Linked DNA regions of Homo sapiens: region 1 is linked to region 2. Evidence: fine-mapped expression QTL. A gene starts in region 2. The other region holds a variant in brackets. All regions are shown on one strand. Distances are from middle to middle. Region 1 overlaps CFAP74 (cilia and flagella associated protein 74). Region 2 holds the start of SDF4 (stromal cell derived factor 4).

What was found. PIP is the estimated chance that this variant, and not a neighbour inherited with it, causes the effect.
Region 1: its variant is the best candidate, but not a certain one, in a credible set for the expression of SDF4 in skeletal muscle (FUSION, PIP 0.62).

Annotation. Positions count from the first base shown.
Region 1 is chr1:1,991,620-1,996,002 of GRCh38, forward strand. All of the region lies in intron 1 of CFAP74 (cilia and flagella associated protein 74), which reads right to left. Among named protein-coding and RNA genes, the nearest start is that of CFAP74, 10 kb to the right of the region's middle. The variant A/G (reference allele first, on the strand shown) is at 2,240.
Region 2 is chr1:1,229,985-1,234,367 of GRCh38, forward strand. It overlaps SDF4 (stromal cell derived factor 4), which reads right to left and starts at 2,017. Exons shown (of 7, transcript NM_016176.6): 1 at 1,908-2,017. B3GALT6 (beta-1,3-galactosyltransferase 6) reads left to right here and starts at 2,253. Exons shown (of 1, transcript NM_080605.4): 1 at 2,253-4,383. The coding sequence starts at 2,295. The coding sequence ends at 3,284. RefSeq lists a silencer at 1,495-2,354 and enhancers at 1,971-2,652, 2,653-3,334, 4,119-4,383.

The DNA of each region.
Region 1 (4,383 bases), 760 kb after region 2:
AGATTTGGAATTCCATAAGAAAAGAGATATACAAATGGCCAATATGCATGTGAAACTGTGTAACATCAGTATCTTTAAGGAAATATGAATCAAGCCATAATGAGATACTATTATATACTGAGTAGAATGCCTGAGATTGGCTGGGCGTGGTGGCTCACACCTGTAATCCCAGCACTTTGGGAGGCCAAGGTGGGCGGATCACGAGGTCAGGAGATCGAGACTATCCTGGCTAGCACAGTGAAACCCCATCTCTACTAAAAAACAGAAAAAATTAGCCGGGCATGGTGGCAGGCGCCTGCGGTCCCAGCTACTCGGGAGGCTGAGGCAGGAGAATGGTGTGAACCCAGGAGGCGGAGCTTGCAGTGAGCCGAGATCGCGCCACTGCACTCCAGCCTGGGTGACAGAGCGAGACTCCGTCTCAAAAAAAAAAAAATGCCTGAGATCAAAACGCTGCCAACAGTGAGCACTGGCAAGGCTATGGAAGGGCTGGCATCGTCACGCGTTGCTGGTGGGAGTGTAAAGGGATACTCTGGAACACTGTTGGGCAATTTCTGTTTTCTTTTGTGACAGGGTCTCACTCTGTTGCCCAGGCTGGAGTGCAGTGACACAATCACAGTTTACTACAGCCTCAAACTTCTGGGCTCAAGCAATCTTCCCGCCTCAGCTTCACAAGTGCTAAGACTACACGCACATGCCGCCATGCCCAGGTAATTTTCAAATTATTGGTTGAGATGGTGGGTCTCTCTTTGTTGCCCAGGCTAGTCTTGAACTCCTGGTCTCAGCCAGGATTCACCCACCTCAACCTCCCAAAGTGCTGGGATTACAAGCTTGAGCCACTACATCTGGCACCAAAAACAATTTTTTTTTTTTTGGAGATGAAGTCTCGCTCAGTCTCCCAGGCTGGAGTGCAGTGGCGGGATCTTGGCTCACTGCAAGCTCTGCCTCCTGGGTTCACGCCCCTCTCCTGTCTCAGCCTCCCGAGTAGCTGGGACTACAGGCGCCCACCACTACGCCCAGCTAATTTTTTTGTATTTTTATTAGAGATGGGGTTTCACTGTGTTAGCCAGGATGGTCTCGATCTCCTGACCTCGTGACCCACCTGTCTCGGCCTCCCAAAGTGCTGGGATTACAGGCGTGAGCCACCACGCCTGGCCCAAAAACAATTCTTAAATAATTTCAAAATTATCATTACACTTTGCTTATCATTTTGGGAATGTTAGGAGCTTGCTCGTGTGGAACTCTTGGTACCGAATCTTCTGTGTCCAGATGTTGGAACTAAATAATTTCACTTAAGAAACAGGCCGGGCACAGTGGCTCGCGCTTATAATCCCAGCACTTTGGGAGGCCAAGGTGGGCAGATCACTTGAGGTCAGGAATTTGAGACCAGCCTGGCCAGCATGGTGAAACCCCATCTCTACTAAAAATACAAAAACTAGCCAGGTATGGTGGCAGGCACCTGTAGTCCCAGCTACTTGGGAGGCTGAGGCCCGAGAATTGCTTGAGCCCAGGAGGCGGAGGTTGCAGTGAGCCGAGATCACGCCACTGCATTCTAGCCTGGGCGACAGGGGAAGACTGTCTCAAAAAAAAAAAAAAAAAAAAGAAACAATGTTAAAATCACAAACTCTTTACTTATTTTTTTCTGGTGAGAATTAAATTTAATGGCTAACTTTCTTTTATTTTTTTGAGACAGGGTTTGACTCTGTCACCCAGGCTGGAGTGCAGTGGTGCGATCACAGCTCACTGCAGCCTCCAACTCCTGGGCTCAATTGATCCTCCTGCTTCAGCCTCCCAAAGGAGCTGGGACTACAGGCACGCACCACCACACCCAACTGATTTTTGTATTTTCTGTAGAGACAGGGTTTTGCCATGTTGCCCAGGCTGGTCTCAAACTTTTGGGATCAAGTGATCCACCTGCCTTGGCCTTCCCAAGTGTTAGAACTAGAGGCGTGAGCCACCGTGCCCGGCCGGTGGCTGTTTTCTATTAGACCTTAAATATGTGATTGGTTTTAACGCCTATTAATCACATTGTGCTTGTACCATGATTAATATACAAAACAGCTGATGTCAAATGCTTATAAATCAGCAGGGCACAGTGGCTCACGCCTGCAATCCCAGCACTTTGGGAGGCCGAGGCAGGTGGATCACGAGGTCAGGAGATCGAGACCATCCTGGCTAACACAATGAAACCCCACCTCTACTAAAAATACAAAAAATTAGCCGGGCGTGGTGGCGGGCGCCT[A/G]TAGTCCCAGCTACTCGGGAGGCTGAGGCAGGAGAATGGCGTGAACCCGGGAGGCGGAGCTTGCAGTGAGCCGAGATCACACCACTGCACTCCAGCCTGGGCGACAGAGCAAGACTCCGTCTCAAAAAAAATAAAAATAAAATAAAAATAAAAAAATGTAGCCAGGCGTGGTGGTGGGCACCTGTAGTCCCACCTATTCAGGAGGCTGCGGTGGGAGGATCACTTGAGCCCAGGAGGTCGAGGCTGCCGTGAGCTGTGATTGTGCCACTGCAGGCCAGCCTGGGTGACAGAGCAAGACCCTGACTCTAAAAGGGTTAAAAAAAAAAAAAAAAAAAGCTTTAAGTCAATGTACCTAGTATAGAGACAGACATTTAACATTGGGAATTAGCACTACCATTTTGCATTGAAATAATGAGTAATTCCGGGTGAAATGTACATAAATGTTGACATTATGTATGAGATGCTAAAACTGTAAAATTGTAGAGGACTGTGTTTCATTGCTTAACTTAGCAATCGCTTCAGAATAATTCACTAAAAATATTTTCAGTGCCTAGCAATGTTTCTTGGATAAATTATTAATGTATCAATGCCAGTAATTTTTTAAACTTACAAAGAAACAATTGCATTTTAAAGTCCTGGGAGGCAGAATTTTAAGGCATCTTGTAAAATTCCAACAATATTTTTTCCACTTGAAAGAACTGATTAAGCTGCTAGTCTTTGAATGGCAGGATTTTCAGAAACTATTTAGAAAATGGCCAAACCTATTCAGCTCTGTGCTTGTGAATTCCATGCGGCCTCCGCGACGTCATTTTGCTGGACACCCCGTGGATGTCAGTCTTCTAAAAGGTGTCATTGCACACACACAGTTCCTCTGAAGATGATCACACTAAACCATATACACTGAGCATCCGGTTAAAGACGGCACTTCCAACAGGCAGCCACCTCTGATCTCTCCTGAGTCCTCACTAACAACAGGGGGTAGATTTATTGTTTTCAGTACATGAATCTACCAGGGCAAGGGTCATTGGGAGAAACAGGAGCAAAGAGAAGCGGGAGGTGGAGGGATGAGGGTAGCTGTCCCTGCAGACAGAGGCGCTGGCTGACCCTCTGCAGGAGAAGCTGAGAACAAACCCGACGTCGCCACACAGCTGTGAAAGGTTCAGGACTGGGCAGCTTCAGGTGGTCCTCCAGTGGGAGCAGTGGGATTGGGAACTGAGAGACCCAGGAAAGCGTGCTGAAGAAGCAGTGGAAGTTCCACTGTGGTGACATGGCTAGCCAGTGTGCTGGCATCACACTGAAAATCATCAGAAATGCCGGATAGGACTGTACTTTAATTCTCGTAAAAATGTTGAAGAACAAACCAGGTGAGGTGGCTCACACCTGTAATCCCAGCACTTTGGGAAGCCGAGGTGGGCGGATCACTTAAGGTTTGAGACCAGCCTGGCCAACATAGTGAAACCCCGTCTCTACTAAAAATACAAAAATTAGCCGGGCGTGATGGCGCATCCCTGTAATCCCAGCTACTTAGGAGGCTGAGACAGGAGAATCGTTTGAACCCGGGAGGCGGAGGTTGCAGTGAGCTGAGATCATACCACTGCACTCCAGCCTGGGCGACAGAATGAGACTCAGTCTCAAAAAAAAGAAAAAAAAAAACAGTTGAAGAACGGACAAAATAAGAAACTTTCAGGTTAAAACCTAAGTAAAAATATAGATTAAATAAGCAAGCTAAAGGGAAGTATATTATCGAGTTGCATTAAAAACTAAGAACAGGCCGGGCTCGGTGGCTCACGCCTGTAATCCCAGCATTTTGGGAGGCAGAGGTGGGTGGATCACGAGGTCAGGAGATCGAGACCATCCTGGCTAACACGGTGAAACCCCGTCTCTACTAAAAATACAAAATTTAGCCGGGTGTGGTGGCGGGCACCTGTAGTCCCAGCTACTCAGGAGGCTGAGGCAGGAGAATGGCATGAACCCGGGAGGCGGAACTTGCAGTGAGCCGAGATTGCACCACTGCACTCCAGCCTGGGCGACAGAGCGAGACTCCGTCTCAAACAAACAAACAAAATGAAAACAACAACAACAACAAACCCAAGAACAACCAAAAAAAATCAAACTAACTTTTTTTGTTTTTGTTTTTGTTTTTT
Region 2 (4,383 bases):
GCCCAGAAGTCTGTCCTGCCGTCCGAGGCGTGGCCAGTCCTGGTGGGAAGCAGGGGCTCACAGGGCCTCATGCCTCATGTATCCCAAAGGGAACTCGGGGTCCTTCTCACCCACGAGCCTACTCCTTTCACAGTCTGCCCCTCCGGCAAACACCTGCGGGTCCTTTCGGGTGCCGCTGAGGCCCCGCCATGTCACAGCTGTTCCCTCAACACACATGGACTGAGACTCCTGTTCTGTGGCCGTCTTATTCAGCTTCACTGTTCTGGCACCTGCCACTCTGCCTGCACACAGTAGGCGCTCAACGAATGCTACCCTGGGTAATATTAAACGAAAAAATGCTGCCTCCAGGTATCGAGAAACACCAGTGGGGCCGCCATGAAAGTGGTCCTGAAGTCAGTGCAGTCTGCCACAAACCAAGAGGGGTACAAGCCTGAGTTCCCCCAAGGAAGGAAACCCTGGGTGAGGGGCTCATGTCTGATTTTTTTTTTTTTTCTGAGACAGAGTCTCACTCTGTCGCCCAGGCTGGAGTGCAGTGGTGCAGTCTCGGCTCACTGCAACCTCCACCTCCCAGGTTCAAGTGATTCTCCTGCCTCGGCCTCCCAGTTAGCTGGGATTACAGGCACCCACCTCCACTCTCCACTAATCTGTATTTTTAGTAGAGATGGGGTTTTGCCATGTTGGCCAGGCTGGTCTCTAACTCCTGACCTGAAGTGATCCTCCTGCCTCGGCCTCCCAAAGTGCTGGGACTATAGGCGTGAGCCATGCACCCGGCCTGATTTTCTGAACATGGCTGAGGGCTTTTCCCTTCCCTAGTGGTGGCATAATTCTATTCCTGTCGTCCCAGATCGCCTGACCAGGGGAGAGTCCTGGATAAGAACCAAGACACCTCCTCCTGGTGCTGACTCCACTAACTACAGTCGTAAAACACACGCTGTGTGCAAAGAGACTGTACTTTGTTCCTAGAGAAAATAAAGCTAGTTCTTGATTCTACATATCTTGATGAGTTACACGGTTTACTTGAGGCAGGAGGATCGTGAGACCAGCCTGGGCAACACAGTGAGACTGCGTCTCTTTAAAAAACAAAAACAAAAAGATAAGACCCTGTCTCGAAAAAGGGGGAATAAAAAGTAACCCAAAAGTAACTATAAATATCAGGAGTCCATCAAGTGGCGCTTCCTCTCCTGGCTTCAGAGTATCTATTCATCACGGTGTGCCAGGTTCGCAGCACAGCGGAGCGGGCCGGTCCCACCGGAATGGGGTTTCGACTTCGCCATCCCCTAGCAGCTCAGTTCCCAGCAAGGAATCAACACACCCTTGCAAAACGGACGTGGGAAACAGCTTAGGCAGAGACGCTATTTCTTTGCCATCCCTGGGCTTCAGCTCTGGTGGAACGAGGCTATTTCTGGCAGTTAACAACACACACGGTTAGATTCTAAAAGCTCAACAGGGTTCATAACACCGCCTCTGAGCCAGACATCAAGGGCTCCACACAGCCGACTTCACATCTCCAAATCCTACTAACTGGGGATGAGGGTCCACGCGGTTCAGAAGCGGAAGCGCAGGCGCAGGGAAGCGGGGCAGCTTGTCCAAGGTCGCCTCGCCGATAAACGCGAGTCCAACCAGACCCCTTGGGCCTCCGTTTCCCGGTGGCATTCGTAGGTTTTGGCCAGTAGGAGACCAGACGTGCCGGCGGCCGGGGAGGCCAGCGTCGTCGGCCTGTCCCTGCCCCCGGGAACCCCGGGAGCCCCGGTGGCGGCGGAGTCTCGCCAGGGCTCAAGGCCGAGCGGACGGACGATGCCCCAGCCCAAGGCGGGAGGCGGCGGCGGCCTCCAGACCCGCCCTCGCCGTCCGGCCGGCGTACACTTGGCCCCGCGGCCTGCAGCGGCCGTCCCGGGCCCCTCACTCACCGGTCTGCCTCCCCGCGCTCGGGATCCGAGGACCGGAGCGAAGCGTCAGTGACGCCGCCAACGGGCCCGGATCAGGCCACTGCCATCTTTCTTGCGGGCGGGGGCGGTGCGAACGGGCGCGACCTCACGGAGGGGACGCCGGCGCCACCATCTCTCCTCCGGGCGGAAGCGGTCGCGGGGCCGCTCCGAGGTTGACCAATGACAAGGGTGCCCGAGGCCACGTGACGGCCGCCGATTGGCCGCCGGCCTCCGAGCGCCCCGGGGCTCGGCGTCTGCGGAAGGCCCCGGCGCGCTCCCAGGAGCGCCGTGCGCACGCGCACCGCCCCGAGCCGGCGGCGCCTGCGCACTCGCGAGTCCGGCCTGGGCCGCCGGCCCGGCGCGGGCGCCATGAAGCTGCTGCGGCGGGCGTGGCGGCGGCGGGCGGCGCTAGGCCTGGGCACGCTGGCGCTGTGCGGGGCGGCGCTGCTCTACCTGGCGCGCTGCGCGGCCGAGCCCGGGGACCCCAGGGCGATGTCGGGCCGCAGCCCGCCTCCCCCCGCGCCCGCGCGCGCCGCCGCCTTCCTGGCAGTGCTGGTGGCCAGCGCGCCCCGCGCCGCCGAGCGCCGCAGCGTGATCCGCAGCACGTGGCTTGCGCGGCGCGGGGCCCCGGGCGACGTGTGGGCGCGCTTTGCCGTGGGCACGGCCGGCCTGGGCGCCGAGGAGCGGCGCGCCCTGGAGCGGGAGCAGGCGCGGCACGGGGACCTGCTGCTGCTGCCCGCGCTGCGCGACGCCTACGAAAACCTCACGGCCAAGGTGCTGGCCATGCTGGCCTGGCTGGACGAGCACGTGGCCTTCGAGTTCGTGCTCAAGGCGGACGACGACTCCTTCGCGCGGCTGGACGCGCTGCTGGCCGAGCTGCGCGCCCGCGAGCCCGCGCGCCGCCGCCGCCTCTACTGGGGCTTCTTCTCGGGCCGCGGCCGCGTCAAGCCGGGGGGGCGCTGGCGCGAGGCCGCCTGGCAACTCTGCGACTACTACCTGCCCTACGCGCTGGGCGGCGGCTACGTGCTCTCGGCCGACCTGGTGCACTACCTGCGCCTCAGCCGCGACTACCTGCGCGCCTGGCACAGCGAGGACGTGTCTCTGGGCGCCTGGCTGGCGCCGGTGGACGTCCAGCGGGAGCACGACCCGCGCTTCGACACCGAATACCGGTCCCGCGGCTGCAGCAACCAGTACCTGGTGACGCACAAGCAGAGCCTGGAGGACATGCTGGAGAAGCACGCGACGCTGGCGCGCGAGGGCCGCCTGTGCAAGCGCGAGGTGCAGCTGCGCCTGTCCTACGTGTACGACTGGTCCGCGCCGCCCTCGCAGTGCTGCCAGAGAAGGGAGGGCATCCCCTGAGCCGCCGCGGCCCGGCCCTCCGGGACACCTGCTTCACCCGGCGGCGCCTTGGGGCAGGTGCCGAGCGGGCGCACTACGCCCGGGCCCCAAGGCCCCCGTCCCGCAGCCACGCTTGTGGTCGCTGCGTCCCGGTCTGCGTTTGGGAGACCCCTGGGGGTTGCCGGGGCAGCGCGCCGTGTCCAGGTGGAGGTGCCCGTTCCTGGACCTCAGCGAGCCTGAGCCGGGCCCGGCCGCACGCTGACCCCCGTGCTGTCCCCGACCGGCTCACGGGGCTGGGCTCCGATCTTCCGTGTCTCTTATCAGTGGCGTTTCTCACGTCTGCGTCTCAGATCTAACGTGGTTTCACATCAATCCGCTTTCATGGGATTTTGGTCTCTGTCCAGTGACTTCGTGGTAAATGTAACTCAGTGTTTGCTTGCGACTTATTTATAAATATTGTAAGTTTGTGTCGATGAGTGTAAGTTGGCAGTGCGCACGTCTCGGTTTTTTTACATGATTTAAGGAAAGACTTTTATGTCAGAACTTGGTGCCTGTACCGTCAACCCCGCTGCTGCCCGTGTTTAAACGCAGGAGAACTTTAAAACTGGCCATCTATCTTTTCAGTGTACAAGTCACTGAACCCATTGTTTCTTTCTGAAGAGACTTTCCTTTCAAGGCTTCCCATGGGTCCGCGCCACACAGGGCCGGTGCTGCTTTATTTCAGACTCTGCCCCAGGTTCCAGGAATCCGAACCCCGGAGTGCTGACGCGGTTCCCCAACTTCCGCCTTAAGAAAACAGGACCAGCCGGCACCAGGCCCGTCTCTCACGTACTTTAACACATCCTTGAAAGCCCCTCGTTTAATGAGAAAAGCGAACACTGCGGTCCTTGCCAAAGTAAAATGAAGCTGCCCCAGGACAAGGGGTTACCATGAGCTCCCTGGAGTCCGACGCGGGTTTTCTCTCTGGGGGACCTGGGTGGTCCCCGCTGTGGTCTTTGTTGTCCCACTTTGGGACCGGGTCCAGTCTGGGGTCTAGTCTCGAGCATCAGGGTCAGGCTCGGGGCAGGGCTGGGTTAGGCTCCGGGTCAGTCTTGCCATGGGTTTGGGAGCAGGTTTGGGT